Linked DNA regions of Homo sapiens: region 1 is linked to region 2. Evidence: fine-mapped expression QTL. Tissue or cell type: whole blood. Region 2 holds a variant in brackets; the other region holds the start of a gene. All regions are shown on one strand. Distances are from middle to middle.

Region 1 (2,764 bases), 35 kb after region 2:
GAGGGGATGGCCTCTGCCACAGAGACAGTCGGATTTCTCCATTTTGGGACGCAGCTCGGCAGGGCACCGGGAGGGGGCGGCGTTGTCACGCAGCTGGATGCTCCACGGGTGACACCCCCGCACCCTACCCCTCACCCCCGAGCCGCGCAGCTTGAGTGACTAGGCCGGGGCTCCCCCAGTTAGGAGGTGCGGGCTGTTTTTCCTCCCAGTCTGGGCGGGCAGGGCTGAGCAGGGTTTGGGGAGTATTCTGTGACCCTGGCATTCTCCCCTCTGCCCCACCTCAGCCCCCGGCAGCGTCTAGGCGCTGGGAAAGCTGCTCCGGGTTAGTTGATGGAGGCAGCGAGCTGCCGAAGAGACGGCCACAGCTTTCTAGCAAAGAGTGGTGGTGGCGCGAGTGAGCGTGCGTAGAATTAGCTCTGCCGAAGTCACCGAAGCTGGAGGAGAGAATTCATTTTATTCTTGAAACTCCTACTTTTACGTCTCGTGGAAAACCAAATCGTATTCCACTGACACTATGATGCACTTAAAATGGCCAAACTTTAGGGGGCCGCGAGGAACGCGCTTCGCCGCCTCCAATTTTGTCAGAGAACTCGCAGCAAAGGCACCGGACACCTAGCGGCCCTTTCCCTGGACTCCGGGGCAGCACGCACTCCCCGGGCGCGCTCTCTGCGCCCACTCGGCCCGCCCAGTCCTCGGCCATTGGCTGCTCGCCCGCGTCTGCTCCGTGACGCGCCCTGACCCCCGCGAAGTACTGGCCCCTTGGAGCCACTCGTGCGCAGGAGCCGCGCACGCCCGAGGCCCGTGGTGCCGCCCCCGCGCCTTCTCGGGCTCGCCCAGAGCTCCCCGGCGCGCTTCCCGAGGTTTCGAGAATCGAAACCCAGTTATCAACAAGCCCTTCCCACTCACGCGCCGTGACTGATTTGCGTGCAAGAGTGGACTCATGAGTCCACACTTGGATCGGGTTTATCAATGGAGTAAATGGTCTACCTAAAAACCGAGGTTTAAAAGAGCGGTCGTGAGGAACCTCCGGAGCCCAACCGTGATGATCTAAAGACGGGCTGAGTCCGCGAGAATTTTGGGAAGTTTCTGCAGTTGCAGGATTTTAGTCGTGATCTGGTTTTGATGACCACTTATGATTCCTGGGGCATTTAAAGTGTCTCCTCCTGGGGAAAATGAAAAGAGATTTGTGGGAGGGGGCGTACATAAATTAAATGTATGTATAAATACACGCATCTACGGGCGCACACAGTATCCGCACATACAGCCCAGGACCTCACGCTCACCGGCAGTCGTCCCGCACTAACTGCTGGGCTAGTCAGCTGCGTGCCCTGCGGGCGGGGGAGGGCAGAGGGGGCGGCGCCCTATGCAGATGAGGAGGGTGTGGCGAACGTGCCGCTCTGGGCCCCGGAAGCGCAGAGAAGCCCGGTATAAAAAAAGTACTGAAGACATTTTCCCCGCACAACTGCTAAAGCTCCAGAGACACGAGCGTGTGTGGCAGCAAGAGCCGCCAGTTCGGGACCACCGCAGCTGGGGTGGCAGCGGCGCAGGAGGGGTCGCGGGGAGGGAGTGGTGAGCGCAGGCGGCAGGGGTCTGGGAAAGACGAAGTCGCTATTTGCTGTCTGAGCGCGCTCGCAGCTCCTGGAAGTGTTGCCGCCTCTCGGTTTCGCTCTCGCTCGCTGCGCTCCTAGAAGGGGCGGCCGCCTCCAGGTGACACAGACGGGACTCTCGCTTGCGCTTTCCAGATGCATCAGAGATACTTTTGGTGCGGGGCTGCTCTGCGGGGCGCGGTGCGCGGCTGGGGACTGTAAGGGCCGGGGGAGGGAGTCTCCGAGGAGGCCCGGGGTCAGGGAACTATCGGGGGAGGGGGCGCTCTTTTCCTGGCGGGCCTCTGCTCTCCGCCGCCGCGCGTGCTCTCCGCCGCCGCGCGTCCTCACCGCGCTCCTTTCCCTTTCTTTTTAGGACTGACCAGGGCCAAGTGGCGCTCGGCGGGCACTACATGGCGGAGGGTGAAGGGTACTTCGCCATGTCTGAGGACGAGCTGGCCTGCAGCCCCTACATCCCCCTAGGCGGCGACTTCGGCGGCGGCGACTTCGGCGGCGGCGACTTCGGCGGCGGCGACTTCGGCGGTGGCGGCAGCTTCGGTGGGCATTGCTTGGACTATTGCGAAAGCCCTACGGCGCACTGCAATGTGCTGAACTGGGAGCAAGTGCAGCGGCTGGACGGCATCCTGAGCGAGACCATTCCGATTCACGGGCGCGGCAACTTCCCCACGCTCGAGCTGCAGCCGAGCCTGATCGTGAAGGTGGTGCGGCGGCGCCTGGCCGAGAAGCGCATTGGCGTCCGCGACGTGCGCCTCAACGGCTCGGCAGCCAGCCATGTCCTGCACCAGGACAGCGGCCTGGGCTACAAGGACCTGGACCTCATCTTCTGCGCCGACCTGCGCGGGGAAGGGGAGTTTCAGACTGTGAAGGACGTCGTGCTGGACTGCCTGTTGGACTTCTTACCCGAGGGGGTGAACAAAGAGAAGATCACACCACTCACGCTCAAGGTAACACCACCCGAGATGCACTTGGGTCCTGACCCAGTCTGGGCCGGGTGTGACGGGGAGCGGGCAGAGGGGCATCGGTTAAATGCCATGAATCTGTGGCCATCACGAGTTTGGGCGCGCGTTATTTCTTTGATTTTTGATTTTTTAAACCAGTAAACTGACGTGCGTGGACGGTGTTGAGTGTTTCAGTTTACTTGATGCTTTGGCGCTACAACT
Region 2 (2,764 bases):
ACAATTTCCATTGACAGGAAATAGGGAAAAATCCTGGGTGACTCATGAGGCAAATGAGAATCAATAGTGCAGTTTCCACCCATGTAACATTGGCAGAACTGTCTTTTTTAAGCTTTAATTTTCCTTGTACAATGGTCCTCCATAAACAGCAATGAAAAAAAAAAAAAACAGAACAAACACCATTGAGTCACCAGCTCCCAAGGTCCTGTGTGGTGCTTTATTGATGGTAGGTGTATGGAGCTTCCTGGAACATGTTGTTCACAAATAAAGATGTCTTTCTGGCCTTAAGAGAGTGTGTGAATCCCACTGGTCTGGGAGCATGACATATTGAGCCAGAGTGTTTTACTAAAGCTGCTCTCTGAAGTTGGAGATGGCAATTGGGTTAGGAGATAGGCGCTGGGCTGGGGAGAGACTCAAGCAACAGAGAACAACATTTCTCCCTCCTGAATGGGAGCAAGCATCTTCCTTTAGATTAAGTGCTCTCTATTTCCTGAGTGAATAGGGACAAGTTTCCTAAGCTAGAACCTTTCTCAATTCTGATAAGTTTGAGTTATTGACTTTCCATTCTGATTACTATTAAAATTTCTTTTAAAATAAATCAGAGGTAGAGTCCAGTAGTCCAGTAGAATATAGAATCTCAGATATAAAAGGAAATAAACTGTCTTCAGGAAGATTAGAGTGCAAAGTGAGTATTTAAATATTTTATTTGATAATATGGGTTACTGATGTATCTTCCTCATCCCCAATTTTTAAACCCTATTATGTTTATAAGTTTTGGAAGTTTCTGTGGAAATATTTACTTCACAGTTTTAATAAGTATCACAATTAATTAATTGAACTCCTGCTATGTAGAAGGAAAATAATATTAAATAAAGTCACATTGTCATGAAATATTTTCAAACTAGTTAGTAATTATATAAAATTCAAACCTGTTTCCTCCTACTGCACACTCCATACTCCCACATAAAAACTACCAACAATGACAATATTCATTGCAAGAAGCACATTTGAGAGACCATATGAAATTGTCCTTCTTATTGGTCTAAAAATGTTCTAACAGCATAGAAATTTAAAAATGCTCAACCGAAATAGTACAAATAATATGGGCTAGGTATTAGGAAACCTGGATCTTCCCCTAATTAGTTGTTTGCCCTTTTGTGAGTCATTTAGACCTTCTGACTGACCTCCACTCCTCTCTGCTCTAAACTGGGATTAACAGTTTATGCTCTCTGCAAACCTCTTAAGGTTGCTGCCAGTTTCAAAGCAATATTTGTAAACCAAAATATACTCTACGAATTCAGGGTATTATGAACCTTAAATAGCTAAGCTCTGTGTCAAAGTTTTGTTCTTA[A/G]GGCATCATATTTCTCTGAGTAGAAGTGTGTGAGCTATAATACTATGCTGCTACTATCAAACAGCCAATTTTGTCTTTCAATGGTTTTAAATATCAGCCTGAGATTGAAGAAAATAAAAATGGACAGACCTGTTGGGTTTTTATTTTCAGATTCAGCCTGAGAATCACAGTTTCTGGGACTGAGTAAATACTACTTATGCTTGTCTAGGAGTAGAGTCAATTCAAATGGCACTATGTCAACTTTGTTAACGTCATCAGCCACAGACTTTTTCTTATGCTGCCAATAATACAATTTATTGCTGTTTTTAAAAAAGTTATAGGACTACCATTTTCTTTTCCTGCTAAAGTTTTCCTTGTCATTCTGATTCTTTGAGGTAAAATGAAGAACTGGGGAGGACCTGTTTTGGGGAGACATTTAAAGGAGCAATGTTGGTCATTGTTAGATAAATGACAGGACTTGCCTCATACAGTAAAATGTAAACAAATATTTGAAGTTCTTTTGAAACCGACATGAATGAATTTTGAACAAGGCAAAATAGTAATAGCCACTGGGCAAGAAAAAAATATTAGAAAGCGCACACACAAAAAATCACACAAGGATGTGTGTCTGAGTAAAGAAAGCAAAAAGCATCTTGAATAAAGTAAATACAGTAAAAACAAAAAGGAAATTGCATTGACACAATCACTCTGGTATATAATTTGAAAATATTATCAATTTCCTAAAAATGAAACTGAAACTAAAGCACTGAAATATCAAGTAGCAGTGAATATTTTAATAATATCTGCCTCAGAAAATGTAAAAACATAAAATTTTAGGCATCGGAGCAACAGCTGAAGACTAAATGCAAAATGAGACGAATTATTTTAGAAAAGCCAATTAAAAAGTAAATCCATTTTGCTGTCTACATAACTCATCTTCCCCAGAAAGCATAAATGTCAAAATTTTAATAAATCCTATTAAAACAATTCTTCAAGTTGCCATTTTGCTACACAGAGGGTCATAGACATTCCAAGCTTCTATATACATAAACTCTATCGTAGTACCCATTGTCCTGTTGTGTATTGCAGACTTGCCCATGTGAGCCATCAGACAGACAGATTATAAAATGTCCCGCAGAGAAGGCAGCTCTGGTCTAACATTCAACTCTTTATGGTAGCTAGGAACACCTTAACAGAAGTCCCTTCTGTCAGAAGGCTACTCAAGGTGGTGGGCCCAAGGAGATGTCCTTATTATTCCCTGAAATGGTTCAGTGGAAAGATAACTTGATTCAGATTCAGAACCTGGGTCTGAGCTCCAACACTGACACCACAAGTGGAATGACCTCAGGCAACTCACCAAATTTCTCAAGGCTGGGCTTTGTTCATCTGTGAGTTGTGAATAATAATAGCCTAACTCATAGGATTGATGTGAAA

Evidence for each region. PIP is the estimated chance that this variant, and not a neighbour inherited with it, causes the effect.
Region 1: it holds the start of TENT5A, and the variant in region 2 is fine-mapped to the expression of TENT5A in whole blood (INTERVAL, PIP above 0.99).

What each region holds. Positions count from the first base shown.
Region 1 is chr6:81,751,374-81,754,137 of GRCh38, reverse strand. TENT5A (terminal nucleotidyltransferase 5A) reads left to right here and starts at 1,457. Exons shown (of 3, transcript NM_017633.3): 1 at 1,457-1,707; 2 at 1,960-2,548. The coding sequence starts at 1,997. RefSeq lists enhancers at 386-435, 1,296-1,796 and a silencer at 1,256-1,385.
Region 2 is chr6:81,786,351-81,789,114 of GRCh38, reverse strand. No RefSeq gene overlaps it. Among named protein-coding and RNA genes, the nearest start is that of LINC01526, 26 kb to the left of the region's middle. The variant A/G (reference allele first, on the strand shown) is at 1,352.